Linked DNA regions of Homo sapiens: region 2 is linked to region 1. The links come from fine-mapping of genetic effects on plasma protein levels. A gene starts in region 1. The other region holds a variant in brackets. All regions are shown on one strand. Distances are from middle to middle.

Region 1 (16,876 bases):
AGATTTTTGGAATTTTTAACTTGAGAGAGATGATTTAGGGCATCTGATGGAAGAAATTTCTAAGTGGCAAAGTGTTCAAGAGGTGACCTGGGTGCTGCTAAGAGTATTTTGTTTTATGTATGCACAAAGATATGGTTTGGAATAGGAACTTATATTTAAAAGGGAAGCAGAGCATAAAAGTTCAGAAAATTTGCAGCCTGATGATGCAATACAAAAGAAAAACCCATTTCCTGAGCAGAAATTCAAGCTGCTGAATAAATTTGCATAAGTGATGAGGAGCCAAATGCTAACCGCCAAGACAATGGGGAAAATATATCCAGGGCATGTCAGAGGTCTTCATGGCAGCCCCTCCCACCACAGGCCCAGAAGCCTAGGAGGAAAAAATGTTTTTGTGGGCCCAGCCCAGGGACTTGCTGCTTTGTGCAGTCTGGGTACTTGGTGCTCTGCATCCCACCTGTGGCTAAAAGGGGCCAACAAAGAGCTCAGGCCATTGCTTCAGAGGGTGCAAGCCCGAAGCCTTGTTGGCTTCCACGTGGTGTTGAGCCTGCAGGTGCACAGAAATCAAGAATTGAGGCTTGGGAACCTCCTCCTAGATTTCAGAAAATATATGGAAAGGCCTGGATGTCCAGACAAAAGTTTGCTGCAGGGGCAGAGCCCTCATGGAAAATTCCTATTAGGGCAGTGCAGAAGGGAAATGTGGGGTAGGAGCCCCCACACAGAGTCCCAATGGGCACTGCCTACTGGAGCTGTGAGAAGAGTGGCACCATCCTTCAGACCCCAGAATGGTAGATCCACTGACAGCTTGCACTATGCACCTGGAAAAACTGCAGACACTCAGTGCCAGCCTGTGAGAGCAACCAAGAGGGGGGCTGTACCCTGCAAAGCCACAGCAGCAGAGCTGCTCAAGGCCATGGGAATCTACTTCTTGCATGAGTTTGACCTGGAATGTGAGACACAGAGTCAAAGGAGATCATTTTCGAGCTTTAAGATATGACTACCCCTCCCCAGGATTTTGGACTTGCACGGGGCCTCTAGCCCTTTCGTTTTTGTCAATTTCTCCCATTTGGCACAGGTGTATTTACTCATTGCCTGTATCACCCTTGTACCTTGGAAGTAACTAAGTTGCTTTTGATCTTGCAGTCTCATAGGCTGAAGGGACTTCCCTTCTCTCAGATGAGACTTTGGAACTGTGGACTTTTGAGTTAATGCTGAAATGAGTTAAAGCTTTAGGGGACTGTTGGGAAGGCATGATTGGTTTTGAAATGTGAGTACATGAGATTTGGGAGGGGCTGAGGCAGAATGATATGATTTGGCTGTGTCCCCACCCAAATCTTACCTTGAATTGTAATAATCCCCATGTGTCAAGGTTGGTGCCAGGCAGAGATAATTGAGTCATGGGGGTGGTTTCCCCCACACTGTTCTTGTGGTGGTGAATAAGTCTCATGAGAGCTGATGGTTTTATAAACGGGAGTTCCCCTGCACAAGCTTTCTTGCCTGCCACCATGTAAGATGTGCCTGTGCTTCTCCTTTGCCTTCTGCCATGATTGTGAGGGCTCCCCAGTCATGTAGAACTGTGAGTCCATTGAACCTCTTTTCTTTATAAATTACCCAGTCTCAGGTATGTCTTTATTAGCAGCATGAGAACAGACTAATACACCTCCAGAAACTGGAAATTCCTGGGCCCAGAACCCAACCATCTGATTCAGCCCATATAGGGTGGGGGCCCAGGAATCTGTCTTTGATAAGGCCTCCCGGGTGATTCTGACAGTCCAGTTGCAGGCCCACTGCATCAGGGCATGGGGACTACAGGCCTCCTTCCCCTTTGTTTGATTTGCACCCAGAGCTGGAAAAGACTGAACCTCTGAGAGATATGAAAAGGCTTCCATTGGAGGTTTCTGTAAATAGCACAACTGCATGTTTTGTCATAAATCAGTAAGTCTAGGATGTGGAAAAAATATATCTTGGGATCCATGGCCTTGCATGTGTCCTGGGAGATTTTAGAGCCAGGCTCTGCACAACCCGAAGTCAAGAAAGGGCATGACTCTTGGGAGTGACAACTTGTTGGAAGCGGATTCCAACCATGCTTCCCATTTGGCCTGAGCTGAGAGCTAGCAGTTTCCCTACTCGCAGGACACCAAGCAACAAGAACAAAGAAATTGCTCCACCAAGGCTATCTACTTATGAAGATGAAAAGCTGTTAGAAAGTGGTTAGGATTAGATCAGCCAACGTGAGTGGCCTCTTGAGGAGAAGCCAACCTGGAATGAGAGATGAAGGGTTCTTGTTGAATCTTCTAAGAGAAGGGCCCTCTGAGGGCCCCCATCTATCCCCATCATAAGCAATGTCTAAATAAATTGTGCTAGATCCTGTTGTAGTTTCCAAATATTTGCCATTTTTCCAGCAAAAAGTTGATATTAATATTTCCCAACTGCTGCCATCAGGCTTGGCCACGTGGCTTGCTCCAGCCAATAACGTGAATGAAATTGATTTGCCACCTTCTTGCAGGTGCATGATTCTACCATCTTTTTTCCTTCCTTTGCCTCAAGACCAGCACATTCCAGATTGGGCCTGCTCCTATGTCTGGGTGCCAGAATGAAGAAGACATGGAGGAGAGCTGCAGCCAACCTATGAAGGACACATAACACAGCAAGAAATAAACGTCCTTTGTTATAAGAACATGAGTGTGGGGCCATTGGTTACCATAGCATAACCTAGCCAAAGTTGACTAATAAATAGTTTTTTAGAATTGTAAAAAAATTATAGCAATATTAAAGTGATTTTTTTAAAGAAAAGCAACTCTTAATTTACTTTCTAGCCTTGGTTAAATAGTTTTAATTTCCACAGATGCTCACATGCTAATGTGCTGAAACAGACATTACACTTTAGGCTGCGTCTCCCCCAAACTTCTTCCCTAGAAGGAGCCTGGTGTTGGAGGAGGATCTCACTCCACTGCTAGAGAAGGCCAAGGAAGAGATGGTCTGTGGAGCCAATGCCCAGCACAGGGCAGTCTGTTGTCAGTGAAGTGAAACAGAGCACTCGCCACCACTCAATTCCTGGAAAAAGCAGTGCCAGGCTGTTTCTCTTCCTACAAACAATCTATCATGCCTGTTGACTACTCTGCCAAGGAAAGGCTGAATATCAGCTCTGTTCCATGATCTCCCATTTCCTGAAGTCTCAGTCCTAACAGAGGTTGTGAACCTGCATGTGGTAAGGTAGAATTTCTGGGAATTTAGTAGCAAACAATGCAAGCATTGCCTCTGCCCTCTTGGAGCCTATGCTCTAGTGGAGTCTGATGGAATGAATGCATTTAATACATATTAAATAATTACAAAGTGAGTAAGGCCCACTGAAGCAACAAACCAGACACTTGTAATAGATTGAAAGGGCAGAGGCAGCAGAAGAAAATCTATTTAATACAGACGTTTTCAAACATTAGTGAATCATGAATTCTATTTAGATGTTTATAGCCAGATTTTTAAGAAAATGAAATAGAAATGAATGGAGTTGAATAAAATAGGAATCATTGGAGTGCATCACATGTGTTGTCAATATTGCTTTATAAAACTCATTTCTGGGCCAGGCACGGTGGCTCACGCCTGTAATCCCAGCACTTCGGAAGGCCGAGGCGGGCGGATCACGAGGTCAGGAGATCGAGACCATCCTGGCTAACACGGTGAAACTCCATCTCTACTAAAAATACAAAAAAAAAAAAAAAAAATTAGCCAGGCATAGTGGCAGGCACCTGTAGTCCCAACTACTCAGGAGGCTTAGGCAGGAGAATGGTGTGAACCCGGGAGGCGGAGCTTGCAGTGAGCAGAGATCGCACCACTGTACTCCAGCCTGGGCAACAGAGCAAGACTCCGTCTCAAAAAAAAAAAAAAACTTATTTCTGTTGTATATATGTATTATATATTTGTGCAGTAACTGGCTCATAATATAAAATGTGTTGTTATAGTGAATTGTGGTAAAAACAAATTTGAAAAACCTAATTTACAATATGGCTTCAGAGAATCAACTCTGGGGAAGACATTACAGTGAACTGGCTGACTTGATAATTGTTTTTTTATTTACTAGTGAAACTTAATGCTCATGCTTGTACTTCTAAAATGAAACAATAAAAATTAAAACCAATCTTTTATTAAAGGAAGCAAAAGTGTTATGAGTTGCTCTTTTCAAATATTGATTCTACTATTTTGAATAGAAATATGTCTTAAGTTGTAAATGTTAGTTAATAATAGTAGGTCATTAACAGCCCTCTTCAGAACTTACTGGCAATAATGAAATGTGCTTCCTGTGTTTCAGAAATAGTGTTTTTTTTTCTTTTTTAGAGCAAGCCAAACTTTGCCTTCAACCTCATCTCATTTGCAAGCTACTCTCATATAGCTAAGAATTTGGTATTAAAAATAGGCACAGGCCTTAAAACACAAGAGTTTAGATTTAGTTTCCATGTTTTCTGCTTATTCACAGAAATATTGACTGATTGATTGATTGAGACAGGGTCTCACTCTGTCGCCCAGGCTGGAGTGCAGTGCTACGATCATGGCTTACTGTAGCCTCAATGGCCTGAGCTGAAGCAGTCCTCCTACCTCAGTCTCCCGAGTAGTTGGGACCATAGGTGTGTGCCACCACACCTGGCTAATTTTTAAAAAATTTTTCATAAAGATGGAGTCTCACTATGTTGCCCAGGCTGGTCTTGAACTCCTGGGCTCAAGCGCTCCTCCCACCTCCCAAAGTGCTGGGATTACAGGCATGAGCTACCACATCCAGTCTAGAAATATTTATTTAATAAAATAAATATTAATGGGTAGTACCAATCCGTAATTTGTACTATCTTAATCCCTGTGGCAATTAAAAAACAGAGATGGCAATACAACTTGTAGGCTATTGAACATATTCATTTTTCATAATTACTTGTTTTTTTCAGGTGGGTAAATTGCAAAAAACATAGGTAAAGAGTTCTATACTTTCTGGAAAAGACTTCCACCTTGGGATTGAGACAGTTTTGAACACAAAAGAAAACAAATTTTTTTCTCCAAGTACATGGTCTGTCATTTATCAGATTTAAGAAGTCTTGGGACATCTTTTGACAACATTTTCTCCAATGCATCCATGGAATCAAAGGACTTTTCAACTTGTTTGGGGGTAGATTTTTTGGTCTAAAGTTGGAAACATATGTCTTCTTTCAATAGAACAGTGGATGTCTGCACACGTATTTTTCAATGTTTACACCTACAAGTCTATGCACATTCAAGACATTGGCAACAGTGGTGTTATTGGCAAGGGTGGTTGGGATAGTTCCTTTTCACCATATACCTGTAGTATATGCCACAGGTTAGCTGTCAACTCCCATTCCAATGCATGTTTTCCTTTGCCTTCTTCACTGTGGATCAAAAAAGCTAAGAACTTACCTTTCAAGACCCCCTTGTGGCCAGGTGTGGCCATGAGATGTCAGCAGCAAATATCTTTTGGTCCTTTGCTCTTTGGCCTTTGGTCTTCCCTCTTCCTTCATCCTGGAATGCCAACATGATACTTGGAGTTCCAGCAGCCTTGGGAACAAAATCCACACATTAAGGGCAGCAAAGCAGGAGACAAGTGGTTCCTTAAGTAGCTTGCAAGTCTTATTCTACTGCTGAAATCCTAGTTGTGAGAAAAATAATTCTCCCAAGATGTTGAATTTATTGCTTGTAAGAAGTAATGCAAAGTTGAAAGTAATCCTAACATTTGGTCGGTTTCTTTTTTCTTTTCAAAGTTTAGACCAAGTGCATGTATTACCTACTTTAAAAATAATAAAATTCTAAAAACAATGTAAAGTGTATATATAAATCTTTGTTGTATTTCTTAGATTTTTGAATAGTTCAAAAAACCTCTGTTTGGCTTTTTTATGACCTAAGTCTTTAGGTTATCAAAAAGTTATTCTAGTCTTTATCTTGACAAAGTAGTATAAGATAATATGCAGTGGTAGAGAAATATAGCTTTTGCAATATTCCCAAGTAAACACCTGAAAGCAAAGTTACCACCTGGTCCAGCAGCCAGTTGAGTTGGTGACATGCAAGAAGGCCCTACAGCCACCTGAATTCCTCTGTCAGAAGAGCTACCTTTGTTTTATTTGACAATCTTTGGACATCAGATGTAAGACAACCGCCCTGGAGTGTGAACTCTGGAGATACAAACTTATCAGACAATTTCTATTTCATTCAAGATGGCATGACTTTCATACACCAGCATCTGAAATTGTCTGAGATACTGACAACGAATGTGTAGGGACATTCACCAGGGAGCTGAGATTTTTATTTTGAGCTCTTTAAAACAGTGCCCCCCAGTGGTATGCAATAGAAAAAAAAAATCACAAGATTAATATATCCACATTGTTGGTGCAAACAGAACCCATTCCTGCTAGAATGAGCTGAAAAAGAGGCTAAGCATGGTGGCTCACATGTATAATCCTAGCACTTTGGCAAGCTGAGGTGGGAGGATCACTTGAGCCCAGGAGTTCAAGATCAGCCTGGGCAACATAATTAGACCCTGTCTCTATAAAGAATAAAAAAAAATTAGTTGGGCGTGGTGGTGCACACCTGTGGTCCCAGCAACTCGGGAGGCTGAGGCAGGAGGATTGCTTGAACCTGGAGGATTGCTTGAGCCCAGAAAGTTGAGGTTGCAGTGAGCTCTGATGACACCATTGCACTCCAGCCTGGGTGACAGAATGAGACCCTGTTTATAATAATAATAATAAAGAAACAGAAAAAGTATATATTAAGGGTATTATTTGTCCCACTACTAGCTCAAAGTACAAATGGAAAAGCCAACCATTCCTCAAGAAACATCACTCCCCAGTTGAAGTGGAATTCCAAATGTTATAATCAATATGTGTTGACTACGAATGTGAATAGTGCCCCTGTGAACTTGTGCAATGTACACCTACACCATCCATATGTAGCCCTGGATATTAAGTGGTTCAAATAATTTCTGGAAAGGTTCAAGAATCAAGCTTGGAAGCCACACAGTCATCAACCATTCCCAAAATTATACTGCAGGTTTGCTATATGGGAGACCTAGAGTCACTGCTGCTTGGCATAGACACCACATATGATCGATGAAGACTGGGCCACTTATGTACATCCTAGCTGCAAGAGATGCTGGGGAAGCAAGTTCTTGGAGTCAACTTGGGGAGGTGCTGACTCATGAAGTTGGAAATCCCTAAATTTAGGAAGGTATTTGTGATGGTGAATTTTAATGTGTCATCTTGACTGGGCTAATGGATGCCCAGATAGCTATTAAATATTATTTCTGGGTGTGTCTGTGAGGATGTTTCTGGAAGAGATTAGCATTTGAATCGGTAGACTGAGCAAAGAAGATCACCTTCATCTATGTGAGTGGAGTGGGCATCATCCAATCTGTTGAGGGCTTGAATGGAGCAAAAAGACAGTGGAAGGCAAATGTGTTCTCTGCTGGAGCTGGGCCAACCAGCTTCTCCTGTCCTTGGACATCAGCATTCCTGGTTCTTGGGTCTCTGGACTCAGATTGGGCCTTATGTCATTGGCTCTCCTGCTCTTGGGCCTTCAGGCTTGGACTGGATTACACCACTGGCTTTCCTGGGCCCCCAGCTTGCAGACAGCAGACTGTGGGACTTCTCAGCCTTCATAATCGCATGAACCAATCCCTCATAATCTCAATTACTCCCCCCACCCTCTCTCTATATGTATGTGTATATAAAATTTATTGGTTTTGTTTCTCTCAAGAACCCTGACTAATGTAGGGTTCAAAGGCTTTGGGGATCATTCTAAAAGCAAGACGAAAGACAAATGTCCACCAGAGCTTGCAAATACTGTATTTATCAATCCCTCCTCTTCTTGGCATAGTTTCTTTCAAACTTCTTAGTGTCCTCTTCCCATTATTACAAACTTCTCGTTTCTTCTAAGGTCCTTCTAAATTGGTGAGTTCTCAGTGGGAGTTGAGTGACCTTTTCCCTCAGTGTGACTATCACTGCCCAATGTCATTGATACATTATACAACTCCCCATCCCCACTTCCCCTCAGCTCCTGTTAACCACCATTCTTTCTGTCTCTATGAATTTGACTACTCTAGATTCCCCATGTAAATGGAATCATACAGTATTTGTCTTTTTGTGACTAGCTTATTTCACTTAACATAATACTCTCAAGGTTCATCCATTTTGTAGCATCTGCCAAAATTTCCTCCCTTTTAAGGCTGAACAGTATTCCATTGTACGTAGATACTGCATTTTGCTTTTCCATTCACACAAAGAGAGACACTTGGGTTGTTTCCGCCTCTTGGCTATTGTGTATAATGCTGCTACCAGCATGGGGTACAAATATGAGAAGTGAGGTTTAGGATCGTGTGAGGAGGATCACTTGTAGAGGGAAAATAGTGAAATAGGACGACCAGATAGGCTCTGTTGGAACTCGCGCCCATTGTTTTAAGACGCAGCTCAAATGTCACCTGGTTTTAGAAGTCTTCCTGGTCTCCGCAGGCAGTCAGTATCTCTTTCCTAAATCCACCACATTCCCGTAGACAGACACCACATTTATGCAAATCTCCTTCTCACAGACAGTGAGTTCCATGGGGGTCCCCTGGCAGCCTCCAGCCCTGTACCATGCTAACTCTTCCGGAGAGGAAATGGGGCCTCGGGAGAGCCTTTGAAGCCTGTGTTGGTACAGGCTGTCCTTCCAGCTAACGGGGCTCTCTGGGGAATGTATGTTTGACTTTCTATTCCCGGTAATATAAGTTCAAATGTTTGTGGATATTTGAAGCTCGGATGAAAGCGTTTCTATTCATGCCCCTAGAATCTGTGAGGCCTTTTCTTTCTTTTTTTTTTTTTAAACAAGAGCCCACAGCAAAACTTGGGTTACTTGGCTGAGGAAAGGAATGTAGAGCTAGGAGCAGGGTTTCATCTTCAGCCCCAGTCGGGCAAACCAGTGGCAGAAGGGAAAGCAGAGCCCAGGGGTCCCCATCCCGTACCTGGGGCGCAGGCCCCGCTGGGGTGGGAGGGAGAGTGGAGGGCCGGGCAGGCTGCAGCCGCGGATGGCTGCCCCCCCTGCCCCGGTGTTACTGGGAGGACGGAGGTTGCGACAGCAGCCGAGCCCACCCAGTTGCAGCCGGCTCGGGGCTTAGGGCAGGGGCGGGAGGTGACCACCGCGCCGCTGGCCGCCTCGCCCAGACATTCCGTTTCTGCCGCTGGAATGCGCGGACAAGGCTCCTTGTTGGCCTTGGGCGGGGTTCGCCGGGCCGGCCTGGCGCTCGAGGCCCCGGGGCGGGGCGGGGCCCGAGGCCGCGGGACCTTTAAATCCGAGCCTCGCGTGGGCTCCTGGCCCCCGACGGACACCACCAGGCCCACGGAGCCCACCATGCCGCGCCCGGCCCCCGCGCGCCGCCTCCCGGGACTCCTCCTGCTGCTCTGGCCGCTGCTGCTGCTGCCCTCCGCCGCCCCCGACCCCGTGGCCCGCCCGGGCTTCCGGAGGCTGGAGACCCGAGGTCCCGGGGGCAGCCCTGGACGCCGCCCCTCTCCTGCGGCTCCCGACGGCGCGCCCGCTTCCGGGACCAGCGAGCCTGGCCGCGCCCGCGGTGCAGGTACAGGCGGGCGGCGGGAGGGACGCGTGAGCATCGAACGAGGAGAAGCCCAGGGCATCCACCAAGCGCGCTTCATCCCGGCCTCAGGCCGACCGTGGTGCGGGGGAAAGAGGCCCCTCCCGGATGAATCCTGTGGGGGAAACTGAGGTCCAGAGAAGGGGAGGGAGATGCCCAATATCACTCATGTGTCCAGGCTAGAGATGTGGGTCTCCTGAAGCTCTCACTCCCCTGTGATTCGGCCAGGAGCACAGGGCAGCTGGGGAGCGCAGGGGCTGCTGCCCAGCGGCTGCTGCTAAGCTCCGTCCCAGTCCTGACCTCTCCATTCAGTGAGCAAACCCTTCCTGAGACTCTGCTGTTAGTTCTCTTGGAATCTCTCCATCTCCATCCAATATCAGGGCGTGATCTTTCCTCCCCTCCCACAGTCCTCAGGCTGCCTCAGACTGGAAGGTAAGGGATGCGGGTGTGAGACCAGGAGGAGATCCGAGGAGCCGTAGGATACCCCAGGATCAAGACACTCTGGGTCTTTGGCGAACAATTCTATTTCTCTTTTTGGTCAGCAATTGATTCCTGAAGCAGAGCAAAGCTCATAGTGCAGCGAAGCGGGCAGGTCGTCTGACACAGCCCCTGACAGCACATGAAGGGAAACTGAGGCATATCAAGTTGAAGGGACTCTGTGAATCAGTATCAGAGGCCACAATAAAATTCAGGGCTCCGAAATCCCAAGCAAGGTCTCTTTCCACTGCCCCAGCCTACCAACCTCTTAATATGGTTTACATAAGATTGTATCTTCATTTCCAAAAAGCGCAGCTTCAGTCTTGCTAAAAAGAGTCTGTGCCAGGCCATTTCTGGGTATGCAGTCTCATTTGGCCAGCCACGCTGCATGCCTCAGGCTGATTTCAATTGTCTATCCCCTTCTGCATCTTTCTGGATAAGCTGAGAAGGAGCTCAAGGGACTCTTTCCTGACTCAAATACTCAGTCCCCGTATTTGAAGTGGCAGATTTGAAATGGCAAAAGCATTGCTGCTAAGGCAGGAGGTACCGGGGTCCACAGGGCTAGATTCAGCTGGTGGCTGGTTGCTCCAGGCCGGGAATTGAGGGAAAGCCTTTCTTCTGGAAGTTAATCTTACTCTAGTCCTGACCTGCCTCCCTCTGGGATGGGACTGGAAGAGGAAGGAGAGATTCAGCACCAGGTGGCCATGTCCCCCTAAGCTTTACTGGTCTTTCATTACCTAGAGTCCGAACCTGATCATGAATGATAACCCATTAATAAATGCGAGATTCCACCCTGTTCCAAATTATCTCCTTTTAGCAACCAGAAATTGCTAAGCTTCGCTATGGATTTTTATTTCTAGCAGGACTGTAAGGACTCAGTGGTATTATGAGTATGGGAACATTTTAGGAGATTCAGATTCTTTCTTTGTTCTTGGGAATCAAATTGCTGCTATTTAGTAAATGGGAGTGAGATTCAAAAACAACTAATGATTGATGCGGAGTACCAGTCAGGAAGGAACCAGATGTTCACAGAATTTTCTGCCACCATGGTCAAGCCTCAGGTATTAGTTTTCTATGGCCACTGTAACAAATTACTGTGAATTTAGTGCCTTAAGACAACACACATTTATTACCTGAGAGTTCTGTGGGTCAGAAGTCTGACCCTGGTCTCACTGGGCTAAGATGAAGGTGTCGGCAGGGCTGTGTTCCTTTTGGGAGGCTCTAGGGGAGACTGCATTTCCCTTCCCTTTCCACCGCATGAAGGCTGCTGAGTTCCTTGGCTTATGGCCTTTTTCTTCCATTTTCAGAGCCAGCTAAAGCAGGTTGAGGCCTTCTCCCATTGAGTTACTCACATTTCTTTCATCTGCCTCCCTCTTCTACTTTATAATTACATTGACTCACTGAATAATCCAGGATAACCTCTTGTGTAGAGCTCTTTGACTTAATCACACCTGCAAAGTCTCTGCTCTTTGCCACGTAAAAGTAACATGTCTCTGGAATTAGGACGTGGACGTCTTTGGCGGGGGACATTATTCTGCATACCACACCCCGAATAGAGGATTCGGTGTGAATAACCAAGTGGAGAAGGAAAGAATCATGCACGTTTAGTTATAAGAACATAGCCATGATATTTATAAGGACACCATTTGGGTGCTGGTGAAAGCACTGTCAATTACAGAGTTCATATCTTCATGTTACCCCCACCTTTTCTTTTTCTAATTATACAAAAATACTTTGACCCATCTCCAGGAAAGATTTTCAACATAATTCTTCTTCCTAGCTCTAGATCTATGGGACTTTCCAGGAATGAAGTAAAATTCTGGAGGTTTTTTTTTTTTTTTTTTTTTTTAGTATTTGAAGAGATTTATTCTGAGACAAACATGAGTGACCATGGTCTGTGACACAGCCCTCAAGAGGTCCTGAGTACATGTGCTCAAGATGGTCAGGGTGCAGCTTGTTTTTATACAATTTAAGGAGGTATGAGACATCAATCAAATACATTTAAGAAATACATTGGTTTGGTCCTAAAAGGTGGGACAACTCAAAGCCGGTGGTGGTGAGGGGCTTCCAGGCTATAGGTAAGTTTAAATATTTTCTGGTTGATAATTGGTTGCATTTGCCTAAAGACCTGGGATCCATAGAAAGGAAATGTTCAGGTTAAGATAAAAGACTGTAAAGACCAATGTTCTTTTGAAGTCTTATAGTGGCTACCCTTAGAGACAATAGATGACAAATGTTTCCTATTCAGATCTTTTTAAAAAATTATTATTATTTTACTTTAAGTTCTGGGATACATGTGCAGAATGTGCAGGTTTGTTACATAGGGATACATGTGCGCTGGTGGTTTGCTGCACCCATCAACCCATCATCTAGGTTTTAAGCCCCACATAGATTAGGTATTTGTCCTAATGCTCTCCCTCCTCTTGCCCCCCACCCCCTGACAGGCGCTGGTGTGTGATGTTCCCCTCCCTATGTCCATGAGTTCTCATTGTTCAACTCCCACTTATGAGTGAGAACATGTGGTGTCTGGTTTTCTGTTCCTGTGTCAGTTTGCTGAGAATGACGGCTTCCAGCTTCATCCATGTCCCTGCAAAGGACATGGACTCATTCTTTTTTATGGCTGCTGGAGTTGTTTTTTTTTTTTTTAAAGAAAGAAAGAATTTTGATTCCTTTTTTTTTTTTTTGGCTTTTAGAGACTGGGTCTCATTCTATCATCCAGGCTGGAGTGCAGTGGTGTGATTGTGGCTCACTGCAGCCTTGACTCTCTAGCTTTAAGCGATCCTCCTGCCTCAGCCCCCTAAGCAGCTGGGACTACAGGTGCCTGCCACCATGCCTGGCTAATTTTTAAACTTTTTATAGAGATGAGGTCTCCCTATGTTGCCCAGGCTGGTCTAGAACTCCGGAGCTCAAGTGATCCTTCTCCCTCAGCCTCTCGAAGTGTTGGGATTACAGGCGTGAGCCACTGCGCCTGGGTTTAATTCCTTTTGACTTAACTAAATGCATGACATACAGCATATTTCAGGGCGGTGACTTAAAGTCAACAAGCAGGATGTTTACTGAATACATGAGAGAATGTTGATTTTTGTGGAGGAAAATGTTGCCTCAGAGAGAGGTAACTGGGATTCAGTAGCAAGCTCCCAGGGACTGGGAGTCAGGAAACCTGGAGTCCAATCCATGCTCTACCACTTTCTAGTTCTCACACCTCCTTGAACCTCAGGTTTCTCACCTGTAAAATGAATATAAAAACCACCTCTGCACCTCCAGCCTCACAGGTTGATGTGTTGGTACCTTGCGATTCCTAAAGTGTTACTGAAAGGAAGATTTTCTTTTTGTTAATTAAATACCTCCAAGCAGCAGGCTAAAAACAAGAAGATAATTTTCTGCTTTTAAAAGAAAACTAGACAGAGACATAAGGTAGGCTGTTCCAGGTAAGGCTTTAATTTTTTTCTATAAACTGCTTAGTCTAGGCATTAATTTTGAATCACCTTTTTTTCCTACTAAGTATTACCTTCCTAGAGTAGCATCAACTTCTGCCTCCTTATTAGGAAAGGAAAGAGCCTTGAGTGACACTTCATGCCCCAGGACCTCATTTCCATTTAGGGCTGCATGCGTGTGTTGGGTGAGAAGGGGGAATGACTTGAAAAAGAAGTTTAGGGCTGGGCACAGTGGCTCACACCTATAATCCCAGCACTCTGGGAGGCCAAGGTGGGAGGATCACCTGAGGTTGGGAGTTTGAGCCCAGCCTGGCCAACATAGTGAAACCCCGTCTCTATGAAAAATACAAAAATTAGCTGGGTGTGGTGGCGCACACCTGTAGTCCCAGCTACTCAGGAGGCTGAGGCAGGAGAACTGCTTGAACCCAGGAGGTGGTGGTTGCAGTGAGCCAAGATTGCACCACCGCACTCCAGCCTGGGTGACAGAATGAGACTCCGTCTCAAAAAAAAGAAAAAGAAGTTTAATAATTGGCTTTTTTTCTTGTCTCATCCTGACTTGTGGATTTGATTTTTGTATCGAGGAGAGAGGGTGTGCAAACAGGGGTTGGGGGAAACAGGAAAGAACAGGAAAGAATAGATGAACACTAAAATGTACTGTGATACTAAACTGTTAGGTACTTTTGTGTAGAAAAGAGATAAATTCTTTGAAGGTGGGAAATCTGGCTATCTGGTTTATATGCTTTTGTAGCTCCAGGGCTTCATACATGTAGGCCCTCAAAAAATGTTTTTGGTGAATGAATAAGTCAAAAGAGAGATGACCAAGAGAGTTAGTTGGGGCAGTAGGGTAGATACCAGATCACAATCCCTGCTTCTTACGAGACATGCTCATGAAGCTGGAAGCTCACTAAACAGATACAAGATTAAGTTGGCATCCCTCATTCTACTTTTTTTTTGAGATGATGTCTTGCTCTTATTGCCCAGGCTGGAGTGCAATGGCAGGATCTCAGCTCACTGCAACCTCCACCTCCCGGGTTTAAGCGATTCTCCTGCCTCAGCCTCCCGAGTAGCTGGGATTACAGGCACATGCCACTACGACCCGCTAATTTTTGTATTTTTAGTAGAGACAGGGTTTCACCAAGTTGGCCAGGCTGGTCTCAAACTCCTGACCTCAGGTGATCCTCCCGCCTCGGCCTCCCACAGTGTTGGGATTACCAGGCGTGAGCCACCGCGCCCGGGCCCCTCTTTCTACTTACTTTTTTTTTTGTTTTGTTTTTTGAGACGGAGTCTCGCTCTGTTGCCCAGGCTGGAGTGCAGTGGCGTAATCTCAGCTCACTGCAAGCTCTGTCTCCCAGGTTCACGCCATTCTCCTGCCTCAGTCTCCCGAGTAGCTGGGAATACAGGCACCCACTACCACGCCCGGCTAATTTTTTGTATTTTTAGTAGAGACGGGGTTTCACCGTGATGGTCTTGATCTCCTGACCTCTTGATTTGCCCGCCTTGGCCTCCCAAAGTGCTGGGATTACAGGCATGAGCCACCACGCCTGGCTCTACTTTAAATTAGTTCAGGGCTCCAGTGAGCCCCCAAATTCACTAAACAGGAAAGATGGCCAGATGGAGGGAGAATTCAGGGATACTCTGGAGCAGTTTTCAGCCCCTTGGAAGTGGAGTAAAAGAGGGGGGCCACCAGAAGAGCCCCTGAGTGCCTTGCCTCAGACTACCATTGCCTGAGGCTTGGGCACAGTGGTTGGCAGTGAGGCTGTCCCTGAGGGCCCAAGGCCTTTTACATGGTTCAGGGACACATTGTCCAATTGCTCCAGATAGCCAAGGTACTTAAGAAATGTGTAGAATCTATTAATTCCCAGGAATCATGAGGGCCCTTGGGAGCAAAAGCTTAAGCAGAGGGATGAGGTTCTAAGTGAAATTTCAGGATTCAGCCAGCCTGCAGGTGAGGTATTTGGGGAAACTTCACACCTCCAGGTGAATTCTCACTAGGGAATTCTGAAGTCCTTGGTGCTTTCAACACCCCGATGGTCTTGGGGAAGGTCGCAGGCAGTGGTGATGTTGGGGTCAGGAGATGCTGCCTTGCCTGGCCTCCTGGAATCCCAGAGTTCTCTGGAAGTGAGGATTACTGCATTTCTAATTGTGGTCTGATCATTGCTTGGTCTTTTGCAGGTGTTTGCAAGAGCAGACCCTTGGACCTGGTGTTTATCATTGATAGTTCTCGTAGCGTACGGCCCCTGGAATTCACCAAAGTGAAAACTTTTGTCTCCCGGATAATCGACACTCTGGACATTGGGCCAGCCGACACGCGGGTGGCAGTGGTGAACTATGCTAGCACTGTGAAGATCGAGTTCCAACTCCAGGCCTACACAGATAAGCAGTCCCTGAAGCAGGCCGTGGGTCGAATCACACCCTTGTCAACAGGCACCATGTCAGGCCTAGCCATCCAGACAGCAATGGACGAAGCCTTCACAGTGGAGGCAGGGGCTCGAGAGCCCTCTTCTAACATCCCTAAGGTGGCCATCATTGTTACAGATGGGAGGCCCCAGGACCAGGTGAATGAGGTGGCGGCTCGGGCCCAAGCATCTGGTATTGAGCTCTATGCTGTGGGCGTGGACCGGGCAGACATGGCGTCCCTCAAGATGATGGCCAGTGAGCCCCTAGAGGAGCATGTTTTCTACGTGGAGACCTATGGGGTCATTGAGAAACTTTCCTCTAGATTCCAGGAAACCTTCTGTGGTAAGTTGGTCAGTCTTTGCTTCCAACTAGAAAGGATGTTATATTCAGACATTGTGTACCCAGAGAAAAGAGTATTATTCTTTTTTGGTGGAAATTTAATGAAAAACTTAAATATATCCAATGCGTGTGTGTGTGTGCACGTGTGCATGCGCGCGTGTGTGCGACCAACCTAAACACACTCTATTGGTTTAGGAATATAGAGCTGCATTATATGGAACTTGGTTTGCTCATAAAATCTTCATGTTTGCGTTAGAACTGTGAAGGTCTGCAAATATCCAGGATAAATGACCCTGCTGTTCCCTGTCAGGGTCAGGAAAAACAAAACTCAAGATGCCTCTCCTGTCCCCTCTGCCCCACCACTACATTTTTTTCCCCTGATACATATTTTTTTAGTTTTACCATCTCTAGATCTAACAGAACTCTGTTTGTTCTCCTGCAGAAGACAGGGAGAAGCGTCTGTCCTTGGGAGAGTCAGCAGGCCTCTATTCCAATGTCACCGTCAGCCCGAGTGTGCATTTAGTGAATGCTCTGGTTTTCAGACTGGGCTGTTTATCTGATTACTCTTTGTTGAAGAACAGGATTCAGGGACCAGGCAGATTAGGGTTTCAGCTCACTTGAAAGAAAGCAA
Region 2 (13,776 bases), 38 kb after region 1:
AAAGTGAAAAACAGAATGGTTGTATGGGCACTCGAAGTACGGTTTCTACTGAATGTGCATTGCATTCCCATCACCGAAAAGTCATTTAAGTAGTACCATTGTAAGTTGGGAGCTGTTTGTAATCATTTCTGTTGAGACATAAGTAATACAACTTAGAGTCATTCAACTTTTACATGATTAAACAACATCTTAAATAAATCTAGAAGAAAATAGCTGTTTTTAATATATTGAAAATACTCCTGTCTATGGATGTTGTATATATAATCCTTTTTAGAATCTGTCCTATGATTCCAGATTAAAGGAGACTGAAGAGACTGGGTGTAGTGGCTAACACCTATAGTTCAAGCACTTTGGGAGGCCAAGGTGGGAAGACTGCATGAGGCTGGGATTTTGGAACCACCCTGGGCAACATAATGAGACCCTGTTTCTACAAAAAATAAAAAAAATTAACCAGGCGTGGTGCTGTGTGCCCGTAGTCCCCAGTACTCAGGAGGCTGAGGTGGGAGGATCGCTTGAGCTCATGAGTTGGAGGCTGCAGTGAGCCATGATTGTGCCACTGCATTCCAGCCTTGGTGACAGTGCAAGATCCTGTCTCAAGAAAAAAAAAGACTAAAGACTGAAGATGTATAACAACTAAATGCACTGTATAATCCTAGATTGGATCTTGGAATGAGAAGAACAAGTGTCTATAAAGGACATTATTTGGACAATTGGTAAAATTTGTATATGGACTGTGAGTTAGATAATAGTATATCAGTGTTAAACTTCCTAATTTGTAATATGATTATGGAAGAGAATGTCTTTATTTTTAGGAAATGTACACTAAAGTATTTAGGGATTAAAAAATTAAAAGTCATCAATTATTCACGTACCCTAGAGGTTTAAGATATGCTCAAGAGTGTTTTACTAATAGAATGGAAAACGAGTGAGAGGTGGGCAGAAGAGAGATTATAGGACATATCTACCAAAAATGATAAAAGTCCCCTAAACAAGTACTTGTTATGGTGTCCTTTGAACATCATTATTTTTGGGAGTCAGGCCAATTGAGTAAACCATGCTTGTATTTGTTTCTGTCATCAGGTATATGGTAGTTCTGGTAGCTAGCCATGATTGGTGTCTTTACTGGGATGAAATAGGGATAGATATGAAAAATAGTATTATGCATTGTTGTAGAAAATTAGTGATATCAATAACTGCATCTTATGAATAGGTTTTGAGGAATATTAAAGACTAGTTAGCTGTACAGGAACCATATTGATTTTAACATGATCTTGGTGTTTATATAAAAATGTGAATTTGAAATTAATTGTAACCTTTAAGTTTCTAAATTGTTTTATAATGTTCTAGGTTCTGTTCAAGTTGTAACATGGAATGAGCAGTATCAGAAGTTGACTACCAGTGATGAAAACGGGCTTATCATTGTGTGGATGTTATATAAAGGTATACTTTACTAGGAGAGATTATTTAATTTTTCACAAGTTGGCATCTGGATCACAGTATTTGGATGGGTAAATAACATCTCCAAAATAGACCCCTTTTACTAACAACAGGAGTTCATCCTGACTGCACAGTGATAATATTTCTGGATTTATTGCTGCCTACTTTTCACTTTTTTAAAACTTTAACCCTGTTATTAAGAAAGTGAATTAGGTGACTGTTGGCCATCTCCAAAATGAACTTAGACTCTTAGCAGAAGAATAGCTTCTACTTGAGATAAGTCTTTTTTTTTTTCCAGATTTCCAATAAGAATTACTTCTAGGTAGTTCCAGTTTATAATTACATTCATGTGTGTGTGAGTGTGTATTTAATATTGGTTCCTCAGTAGACTGTAAGCTCTGAGGGGAAAGGGGAAATGACTGTTTGTTCATTTTATACGTAGAACCTTTTATAATACATAGCACAGTGTACATGTTCAATAAATATTTGTTGAATGAATGAATAAATGAGTGGCTAGAGTTATCTCAGTAGATAAAAACACATTTAGTAAGAAGTCAAAGGGAATAATTCACTTCCTGCATGGGCCAGTTAGTTTCCTTTTCTTTTATGGATACAGATTTTATCTCAACTCTGACTACTGGTTCACAGTTTGTCTATGAGAGAGGGTGAGTAAAAGAAGGATTAACTTAGATAATCCACTTTTACCAGAAAAGCAGCTCATAATACATGTTCTCCTGAGGCCTGTAGTTATCATCTTCAAAAGGGAAGGGTGCCTTAGTTCATGTGTGCTGTTTTGAAAAGTTCATGTGTGCTGTTTTAAATGGCAGGGCATACCATTTAAAAAGTCTTCATTAAAGATATGCTATAATACTTTAATTTTTTAAAAAGTGTGTGTGTGTGTGTGTGTGTGTGTGTGTGTGTAGGGGATAGAATGTGAAAGTTCAGTGGACTGGAGTAAACTTTGTCTGTTTCCAAGGTAGGTCTTCAGGTCTTCTCTGGGTCTCAGTCTCGATTCTGTTATCCTGCTCTGGGCAGTTATTCCAAATTACATGATTATTTGCTTGGCTGCAGGCCAGAGTTGCCCATGTTGGTATGTCAAAAAGCCTTTGAGAAAAGCAAAAACAAAATAGCCTATTTTTTTGCTTCTAGTTTGGTTATGCTAAAAGACAAGTTACATCTCATTCCTACCCTGCATACAACTAGAATATTTTTGTCATTCGGCATTAGAGATGTCGTGTCACTAATGTAGTATAAACTGATTAGAATTTTTTCAAGCAGGCTTAGGGTTTTACCTAATATGCTGTGTATTTTTTTGCCTTCATTCTCTTTGTGATGGTAACTAATATGCTGCATTTAATATGCTTGTAATTATTCATTGGAGAGTTTATGTGCATATGTATAAAGTTATTGTTACTTGGAGTTTTTTTAATTGGTTATGATCTGAACCATATTGTTCAAGTGGGAAAAGTTAGGCTTTCAGAAAAATCAGTAGTTTTAGCTCTGAAAAAGCAAATGAAGTTTAATTTTTAATTGACAGAAAGAAAGAGAGAGGGAAAGAAAGAAAGAAGAAACAAAGGATGGGCATTTATTATGTTTTCTGTGATAATCTTTGAAGCAGTTATCAGTTAAGCCCAAGTTAATTTTTCATTTTGTTTTTGTTGGATTTGGAAGTTTTATAGTTTAATGTCTCAGGTTGTAGAAAACTTTGCAGTTATTTGTCCCATGGCGTACTTTATGGAATGCTTTCAATTCTTAACTACTATTTAATAGATGTGAAAGTTTTGACTTGTAATTTTTTAAATTTGTGAAAACAGGCTCTTGGATTGAGGAGATGATCAACAATCGAAATAAATCAGTTGTTCGCAGTATGAGCTGGAATGCTGACGGACAGAAGATCTGCATTGTATATGAAGATGGGGCTGTGATAGTTGGTTCAGTGGATGGTAATGTATTGATTGGACATAGAACTAAGATCAATATCTGGCTGACAGTTTTCTTCTTTAGAGATTTAAGTTAGTTACCATATGTTAGCATTCTGATTGAAAAATAGACATAAAAGGGAAACTATTTGATATACAATTTGACGACATTCAAGAACCGTTCTTTGATTTTAACCATCTGTTTTTATGTATATTCAAGGAAATTTTTTTATTTCCTACAGTGGCATTGAAAAAATTGAATTAACTTTTCAGCATTATTTTAAACATGTCTGCCTCATTATGTAATTTCTTTTTATATTGGTTAGTCTGTACAAATATATAGACTTTAGTTTCAAAAAGTCTGTGGTCGTTTTTATTGGAACTGAATATGTCATTGTTGGTTGTAGTTTATAGCCTTAAAAACCTGTATTTTTCAAATTCTAGTAATAGATAAAACTGGGTCTTCTGAGAGTCTGCACCTTTGTTTTAATTTGAAACTCTGTAGATAAATAATTTATTTTAAAATCATTTTTATTTCTCTCTCTCGCTCGCTCTGTGTGTGTGTGTGTGTGTGTGTGTCTGTGTGTGTGTGTGTAACTTCATGTAGTCAACAAATGTTTCTGAGAGCCTATAAAGCAACAGCTATCATTTTAGGAACTAAGGGTACAGCAATGACCAGACCTAGATCAGGAGAGATGGATGAGTAACTGAGAAATTACAGTATCCTGTGATAAGCGCTAAGATGGGGAAAATACAGGAGCATGTAGAAGTGCCACCTAATGCAGACTTGGAGGGATCAGGAAAGGCTTCCTGGAGGAAGTGATGCTGATGCTGAGGCATTAGCCACAAGGTAGGTTGGTGTGTAGAATGTCTCTGCCCTAAGAAGTAGTATTTGAGGAGGTCCAGAGGAGTTGCACTTAGCTATGTTTGGGCCATTGAAAAAAGTTGATTATCAGTAGGGTATAATACTAACAGTGAAGAGTAGTATGCAGTGAATCTAGAGAGAGAAACAGAGGCCAGATCATGCAGATCATAAGTTATATTAAGGTGTTTGGACTTAAGTCCAACAGCACTTGGGAGGCCA[A/G]TGAAAAGTTTTAAGAATGGGAGCAATGTGATAAGATTGTTCTTTAGAAACATCTCTGTGCTACATATGAAGAATAGAGAAAGGAAGGAAAGATAATGGGCAGCTGTATCAGGAAACTGCTCTGGCAATTCAGGTGAGAGATTATGGTGGATGGTAGCCATCCAGGTAATGACAAGGGAATGGAAGTAAGTAGATTTTATACATACTCAGGAGGCAGAATAGATAGGATTGGGGATGAGAGGATGGAAGTCCCCAGGGCAGTATCCAGAGTTTTAGCTTGGGCAGCTGGATGGATGGTAATGCCTTTCATTAAAATAGTGTGGAGAAAGATTGATTTTAAGGGAAAATTCCTCTGTTGGATATGTTGATTTTGTCATGCCATAGGCCATTCAAGTAAATCTATCCAGACCATAGTTAGACATACATATCTGCAGCTCAAAAATGTCTGTGCTGAACACAAAATTTTGGGAACCACCAGCATATGCATGGTAATTTAAACCATTGAAATAGTTGAACAAAACTAAGAGGCATTTGTAGAGTTAAGAATCAGCAACATTTAGGCTGGGGACAGTGGCTTATGCCTGCAGTCCCAGCACTTTGGGAAGCCAAGGCGGGAGGATTGCTTGAGCTCAGGAGTTTGAGACCAGCCTGGACAACATAGCAAGACCTTGTCTGTGCTAAAAATAAAAAAAAAACAAAACAAATTATCTGGGCGTGGTGGCATACTCCTGTAGTCCCAATCACCTGGGAGGCCAAAGTGGGAGGATTGCTTGAGCCTGAGAGGTTGAGGCTGCAGTGAGCCATCATCTTACCACTACACTCTAGCCTGGGCAAAAGAGTGAGACCCTGTCTCAGGAAAAAAAAAAAAATCAGCAACATTTAAGGGATAGGCAGAAGAAGGATGTCGAGAAATATAAGAGTCTTAGAGATAAAGGAGTATATGGGCTAATGGCAGCCAAGAGAGTTCAAGAAGGAGGGAGTGGTAAAAAAAAAAAAAAAAAAGTATCAATTGGCTTTAGCAACAGGCCATCAGTGACGTCCATGAAGGCAGTTTCTTTCTTTTTTTTAAACAACAGAAATTTATTTTCTCAGAGTTCTAGACTCTAGAAGTCCAAGATCAAGATGTCAACAGGTTTGGTTTCTTCTTTTTTTATTTATTATTTTTATAGATTTAGAGGGTACAAGTGCAGGTTTGTTATATGGATATATTGAATATTGGTGAGGTCTGGACTATTAGTATATAACCATAACCCAAATAGTGTATGTTGTAGGCAGTTTCAATGGAGTTGTGGGGCAGAAGCCAGATTGGGAGGGGTTAAGGGTTGAGTGGCAGTTGAAGTGGAGACTATAGGTGTGAAGAACTCTTTCATGAAGTTTGGTTGGGAAAGGAATGGTAGAAATAGTAGTTAGAGGGGGAACTTGGGGTTAATAAAAGTGTTTATTTTATTTAGGGTGATGGTTTCAAAGAGAAATAGATCTGCATGTGTTTAAATCCACATAAGAAAGGCCCTGGAGTGAAGAGTTTAATGAGAAAGAGAAAATGAGAGTAGTCGATAAAGGGAGATCTTTGCAAAGGTAGGAAGGGATTAGATCAGAGAATACATAGAGGAATTAGCCTTGGATAGGGGACTGACTGGGGAAATACCTCTTCTTTTGTATTAGTGGGCAACGCAGAAAGTGTAAGCATGGACTCAGTTATGTTCTGAATTGTTGAAGATGGGAATGAGGAATTTGTTTTTTGGGTGCTTTTATTTTCTTTCCAAAATAGAAGATGGGCTCAACTGCTAATTGGGAGTGAGATCCAGCATCAGAGTTTAGAAGAAAGGGGAGAAAGGTTGAAACAGCTGCTATTTCAGATGTCTTTTCAGGCACATATAGGTGCTCAGTAAATATTTATTGGCCAAATAAATTGAATGAATGCATGAATGCTGTGAAGAATTTGTGAGATCTTTAGAAAAACAAAGATTTCGAAAGCCGTTGTTGGAGGATCATGACCTTGAACAACTTTTAATAATGTTTTGTTTTAGGCAATCGTATTTGGGGAAAAGACCTGAAGGGTATACAGCTATCCCATGTAACATGGTCTGCGGACAGTAAAGTCTTACTTTTTGGAATGGCAAATGGGGAAATACACATTTACGATAATCAAGGAAATTTTATGGTAAGTAAGTGTATGCATCAGTCTTGTTTATACAATTTTATATGATTATCGTACATATCATTCATGTTTGTATATACATTTATTTTTTATGGCGGTTTGTGTAATTAAAGTCTTCAATTCAGATTTTTTTTCTTTTTCCCAATCGTCTAAATTTTGTTTTAATTAAATAAAATTTTGGTTTTCTCAAGGCAAATTAGTGCAACAAGTTCGAGTGTAGCTTTTAGTTCCAATTTTTTTTGGTAGGTAGAAAGGACGAGGTGTCAGTGCATTTAAGCAGAGAGATAATGAGTAGGGCGATGTGCAGTTTAAGTTTTATAGGTGTCTTCTGGTGTCTGAAGCCAAAGTTTACATGTAGATACCACAGGGTATTTTTGTAGCAAGCTACCAATGGTTGTTTGTAAAAAGAATGACAGACTTAAATGGTAAGTGAGAAAAATCAATCCCTGGAAAGAAGGTAAAATAGAATAGGATCAGGCAGCATAATCTGGAGAAAAATTCTGGCTTTGCAAGGTTTAGCTATCATAGATGTATGATTACTGGTGGGGCAGTTTTGTTTTTTAGCAAGGGTTAGGACATTAAGTAAATCCACTCACTGGTGGAAGTAAAATAATGAACTTTTATGTCATTTTGCTGTTTTCAAAGTACTTTTATATACTTGTTGTTTGAGTCTCATAAAAACTCAGTGTTTTTTAATCCTCATTTTTTACATGTGGGGAAAATGGACATTTAGGTGATTTGTCCATGGCCTGTATACCAGTAAGTGATTAAGCTTTAATTTGCCACCTGATTTTTAGACTGTATTTTTCAGTGTTCTTTCTACAATACTCTATTGAGTATTGTCTCTATACTGCTGTGTTTTAAAATGTAAAATATTAAACCTAACCAATTTTATTTAGATAAAAATGAAACTGAGTTGTTTGGTGAATGTCACTGGAGCTATCAGCATTGCTGGAATTCATTGGTACCATGGCACAGAAGGCTACGTGGAGCCTGATTGCCCTTGCCTTGCTGTTTGCTTTGATAATGGAAGATGCCAAATAATGAGACATGAGAATGACCAAAGTAAGGAATTTTTCTGTTTAAAAAATTTTTTTAATTTCTATTTTTTTTTTTTTCTTTTTGAGATGGAGTCTCACTCTGTCGCCCAGGCTGGAGTGCAGTGGCACGATCTTGGCTCACGGCAACTTCTGCCTCCCGGGTTCAAGCGAATTTCCTGCCTCAGCCTCCCGAGTAGCTGGGACTACAGGGCGTGCCACTATGCCTGGCTAATTTTTTATATTTTTCGTAGAGACGGGGTTTCACCCTGTTAGCCAGGATAGTCTCTATCTCCTGACCTCGTGATCCACCTGCCTCAGCCTCCCAAAGTGCTGGGATTACAGGCGTGAGCCACTGTGCCCGGCCTCAATTTCTAATTTTTAACTTTTTTTTTTTTGCGACAGGGTCTTGCTCTGTTGCCGAGGCTGGAGTGCAGTGGTGCGTTCTTGGCTCACTGCAGCCTTGGCCTCCCAGGCTCAAGGTCTCAGCCTCCTGAGGAGCTGGGACCACAGGTGTGCACCAACTCCTCCAGCTAATTTTTGTATTTTTCGTAGAGACAGGGTTTCACCATGTTGCCCAGGCCGATCTTGAACTCCTGGACTCAAGTGATCCGCCCGCCTCAGCCTCCTAAAGTGTTGGGATTATAGGCGTGAGCCGTTGTACCCAGCCCTGTTTTTTTAAAAATGTGGAAAGTTTTAAAAATGTTTAAAAGTTGTTCTTAAGATTATAAAGTTCTCTAGGCTACGTATTTTCCCACAGTGACCTCATTTTTCTCTTTCTGACTAGATCCCGTTTTGATTGACACTGGCATGTACGTAGTAGGCATCCAGTGGAACCACATGGGCAGCGTGTTAGCTGTGGCAGGCTTCCAGAAGGCAGCCATGCAGGACAAAGATGTGAACATTGTGCAGTTTTACACTCCGTTTGGTGAGGTAAATGCATTCAAATTGATCTTCTTTCTTTCTATTTAAATGTGCAGTGAGTAAGGTAGAGGAAAAAATAACAAAGGAAACGGTGTAAACTTATCACATTTTCTTTTAGGGACATTTCATCTTCATAGTATAAATCTTTGTTGTATTTTATCATGGAATTTTATAATCTTATAGTTTTATAATTATAAAATAAAAATTACAATTTTATACATTCAGAAAACCAGAAGTTTAACATAAGAAATCACCATGGAGTAGTTATTTTGAATATTTTCTCTGTGATCTGAATATGTGTCTCTTTTCATAGCCAGCTTTTGAGTAGTATTTAGTATAATATAGTTGTTTCAGATTAATTTTTCTGATTTTTAATGTGATATTTTAAATGTGTTTAGATGTTAAACATACATATCTGTCTGTCCTTCCTTCAAACTTCTAATACTTTTAATTTGTTGCAAAGTAATCAGTTATTTGAAGAAAATTTAATAATTAATCTTAGGTGATGCTACATTAAAATAAAAGCATTGTTTTCATAAATGTACATATGAGTATTATCCTTCTCAATAGTATTTTTAATAAATTTAATTTTAAAAGAATTTTCAGAAGTAGCATTGGAAAATGTCAAGTAGGAGAATTAATATATTGTGAATTTTAAAGAATTTAGAAAGTGAGAGCTTATTAATAACTAAGCTTAATACGTTTTTTGAATGTCTTATTTTCTAACCCAGTACTATATTTTGTCCCTTTTGAATACCCTGTTGGCTTTTATAAATTCGCCATAGACTACAGTGATATATATTTTTGGCTGCATAAAAGCCTATACCAGTTGTTTTAATGTTATTTTTATATATTTTAATAATTTCTTTTAGGGCAAGAAATGATGTCTTCTGATGCTTTTGAATCAGTATCTCAAAGTTACCCAGTAGAATATACTGTAGAACGTAGATGCTCTCTATACATTGTCAAACGACAATATTTCTCGTAGATGTAAAAGTGAAGGAAAAAAAAAAGCATAGTTTTCAAGGTTCCTAAATAATTAAAAATCTGCATTCTAATTATTTCTATATTTATAGCCTCCTTCTTAATTCTTGTTCTTTATTGGTTATTTTTGTTGGTTGCCATTTACTTATTTATCATAATGTTTTATCTGCTTATTTTTGTTAGTTCAGCCTTCCCCAGGTAGAAAAACATGGGTTCTAAAGTCTGTTTGTTTGTCTTGCAAAACAATGTGTTAAGTGTTAAACGGAAAACTGTAAGTGGGGTTTGGTTTAGCTGTAACTAAAAGTATCTAGCATAGTTCCTCAGGTCATAGTAGTCAGTATTTTCTGAGTGAGTGAATATATGGGGAATTATTTGGATCTGTGTTATTGTTAAGGTAGGAAAGATAACCTGGATGGAAGTTATCTAACAATTTAAACTTAATGATTTAAACTTAAGAAAACCTCAGAGAAGAATTTGCTTTTAAATTCTGAGGGCCAGGGGCTCCTGGGTTTTGCACTGTGGTCTTAGCCATGGTAGGAGATAACAGAGCATAGGGTTTGTAGTCAAGTTGATCTGGTATTGAATTCATTTTCCACAGTGTAGTTTGACGTAGAGAAGTTATTTAGCCTCTGAGACACAGTTTAGTTATTTTCAGAAATAAAGGAAATACGTCATGGTGCTGTTGTAAAGATTAAAGGAGATTACAATGAGGAAATGCCTACACAGTGCCTGGCATGTAATGAGGGCTTACTAAAAGGTGGTTTTCTTTCCTTGCTGCTGCCACATCCTGGCTGGTTTGCAGTTAGAAGATGGTCGTATTCTCCTCCTCTTATGGATGGGTCAATACCAAGAGTACTGTAGAGGGCTTGCTGGTTCACCTTTAATTTCATACAGGTAGCAAGACAGATAGATCAGACCCTCCTAGGTTAAAACTTTGAGTTTTTTTCTTCCATTGGTTTCCTTGGGAAAATGGAGCTCAATACATTTGTCTTACTCTATTATGTGCTGCTATGACAGAATACCACAGACTGCATAGTATATATTAACAGAAACTTATTGGCTCACAGTTCTGGAGAATGAGAAGTCCAGTATTGAGCTACTGACATCTGGTGAGGGCTTTTCTGCTGCATAATTTCATGGTGGAAGGAAGAAGGGCAAAGAGAGTGCAACAGAGAGACAAGAGGGGACCTAATTCCCCTTTGTATAATGGCAGTAGTCCCAGCCATGAGGGCCCTCATGCCCTGATCACTGCTTAAAGGTCTCATCTCTTAATACTGTCAAAATGGCAATTACATTTCAATGTGAGTTTTGGAGGGGACAGACATTCAAACTATAGTAACATTAAATTTGACCCTAGAGGGTATCTGCTTAGAACAAGGGATACCAGTAAAGTTCATTGAAATTTTGGGGATTCTATCATTCTGTCAAATAAAAGATATAGATTAAAAATGTTCGATTGCCTTATAGCCACATTAAAAAAGTGTTTGTATTCATTTATTCACTCGTTAATTTGGTCATAAAAAGTACTGTTTATTTATTTTAAATTTTAAATTAAAAAAATTTGAATGTATATTTATTGAAGATATATATTGACTATCAGTTTATCAAATAATCTATTAATGGAAAGGGAAAGAAATGTGAATATGATACAGTTAGTACTCTTAAGGAGCTCATTCTGTAATTCTCTGGAACCATAGAATGGGGGAAGAAGGCAGGACTCGTTGAGGAAGCAGTATTTGAGCTGTATCTTGATGGATGAATAGGCGTGCTCCAGGAGGACAAGGACCAGTAAGGATAGGGGAGCTGTGAGGAAAGAAGAGGGGGATTTCAGGCAGAAGGGATATTGTATAGGCCAAAGCTGTGGAGGCAGAGTAGTTCCTTCACGAGCAGGCACACAGCAGTTATGGCTAAATAGTGGGATATTAAGCCACATAATATGATTTTGGACAAGATGGGAAAAAGGCATTGTATGCCATGCTAAAGAATGTGATGGTGGGGATTTACTGATTTTTAAAAGTTATTAAACCTTTTAAAAAGCAGGGTAGGTTATGATTAGATCTGTGTTCCAGAAAGATAATTGTGACAGCAGAGTATAGATTGAATTGGGAGGGCAGAGGGGGAGAATAAGGAAACAGATGAAAAGTAAGATATAAAGTTAGGAAGCTATTACCACAATGCAGTCCATTAAAAAGGTAATTGTAGAGAGTGGAAAGGAGTAAAAGCAGTAGGACTTGGTGACTCGTTGGTTGTGAGGGGATGAAAGAGAAAGACAAGACTTTATGATTGAATTTGCTAATAAAATATTTCATTGATTCTAAGAAATATAATTTTTTACAACTTTAAAATGAGGAGGCATCTTATAATCAAAGTTGCCATATTTTAATTAGCAATGTGTTTTTTCCTTTCCTTAGTTGTACATAAAAATTCATGTTTCAGTCTATGGCATTTTAGATTTGATGAAATTTGCTATTGAATTCTTTGGATATAGTTTGTAAATTTTTCTTATATGCATGTTTTTCATTATAAAAATTCAAGAAACGTGGCTGGGTGCGGTGGCTCACGCCTGTAATCCCAGCAGTTTGGGAGGCCGAGGCAGGCAGATCATGAAGTCAGGAGATCGAGACCATCCTGGCTAACACAGTGAAACCCTGTCTCTACTAAAAATACAAAAAATTAGCTTGGCGTGGTGGCGGGCGCCTGTAGTCCCAGCTACTCAGGAGGCTGAGGCAGGAGAATGGCGTGAACCTGGGAGGCGGAGCTTGCAGTGAGCCGAGATCACGCCACTGCACTCCAGCCTGGGTGAGAGTGAGAAATTCCGTCTCAAAAAAAAAAAAAAAAATTCAAGAAACATGATTTTAAAGTGACTAGTAACTTTTCACAAAATAATGTTCATACCACTTTTGATCTCTGTGAAGTGATTGGTGGTAATTTGTATTTCAGTTAATTGTTATACTTTAGGTTAAAGATAACTTTCTTTTTCAGCATCTGGGTACTTTGAAAGTTCCTGGAAAGGAAATATCTGCACTATCTTGGGAAGGAGGTGGACTGAAAATTGCACTAGCTGTTGATTCCTTTATATATTTTGCAAACATTCGACCTAATTATAAGGTAAATATTAAGAGCAGTTGTAAAATAAACAGTGTTTCTTACTAAATAATTTTGCTATAGCTCAAAGTATATTCAAAGCTGTCTTGTTTTAGGAGCTAGCAGAAAGGAAGCCTTTTTGTGTGAAGATTTTAGAACTAGTAAACTTTTCTAGAATACTATATATAGTTAGTAAAATTACTCCATGAGTCTTAGCCAGAAACAGATGGTACACTCAAAGGAGTAATTGAAGAGAGATTGATGAAGGGCTTATTACAGAGATGTGGGCAGGGCTAAAGGGAACAGTAAGGGATGATAAAAAGTACCACCCAAAGATTAGCGTCAATGAGAAGCCATCACCAGCCCTGGGCCTGAAGGGGCAAGACAAGGGAGTCAGGCTCCTGGAACCCACAAGAGCTGTGGCTGTGCAAGAGGGTCTGCTCTGCAGGAGCCCAGACCCTGCCAACCAGCCAGGCAGAGAGGGATTTGGGGAATAAATATTCCAACTCACCTCTCCACTTGCTGGTGCTTTCTATTGGCCAAACCCAAAGGGGAGCCAGATGGCCAGGTAGCCCAGGTGACGGAGTTCGTAGAAACTAGTCTCCAAGGCTCACGGCAGGGTAGAGAAGGGCAGAGAATGGATTAGAAGGAGAAAATGAGAATAAGCAACATAACATATAATCAGTATTTTATCTTGAATTTAACATTTGATCCAAAAGCAAGCTCTCAAATGTGAGATTGACCTGGTAAACTATTTGTTATAAAAATCTTATATATTTAATTTTGAAAAGGTAAAGGACCTTAGAGAAATGGCTGATTCTAGGACTAGGGCAGGGAAAATACAAGGTAAGCCTGGAACAGTTTATAGTCCCAGCAAGTAAGGAAGTGCTCAGACAACAAAAGGATGGGGAAATGTCAAAAGGACATTGCTGAAAGAGCCTCCCAATGGCCAAAGCTGGAGCACTTTGAATAATAAAATAAATGATGTATTATTTTATTGTGACCCAAAGTATAAATGCCCAAGAGTTGATGCTGATATAGATGGATTATTTGAATAAATAAATAAATGGGAGAGGAGAAACAGATCTTCCTTACAGAATTATTCCAGTTTACTTAGGTATTGCCTTCTCCAGGAGGTGGAACATAGGC

Alleles and levels. Alleles are on the strand shown, and positions count from the first base shown. The strength of an association depends on the size of the effect and on how common the allele is.
In carriers of allele G in region 2, the plasma level of the protein whose gene starts at base 9,324 in region 1 tends to be lower than with A alone (weak association).

Evidence for each region. PIP is the chance, under the fine-mapping model, that this variant and not a neighbour inherited with it causes the effect. Protein levels are from antibody-based Olink assays in UK Biobank. Linkage for the fine-mapping came from a reference panel and not from the study's own genotypes, which makes the PIPs less certain.
Region 2: its variant is fine-mapped to the plasma level of the MATN3 protein (UK Biobank, PIP above 0.99).

What each region holds. Positions count from the first base shown.
Region 1 is chr2:20,005,116-20,021,991 of GRCh38, reverse strand. It overlaps MATN3 (matrilin 3), which reads left to right and starts at 9,324. Exons shown (of 8, transcript NM_002381.5): 1 at 9,324-9,583; 2 at 15,682-16,248. The coding sequence starts at 9,361. RefSeq lists an enhancer at 9,608-10,220.
Region 2 is chr2:19,968,355-19,982,130 of GRCh38, reverse strand. WDR35 (WD repeat domain 35) reads left to right here. Exons shown (of 27, transcript NM_020779.4): 4 at 1,348-1,440; 5 at 3,252-3,380; 6 at 6,468-6,601; 7 at 7,498-7,663; 8 at 8,423-8,568; 9 at 12,526-12,651. Among named protein-coding and RNA genes, the nearest start is that of WDR35, 15 kb to the left of the region's middle. The variant A/G (reference allele first, on the strand shown) is at 4,441.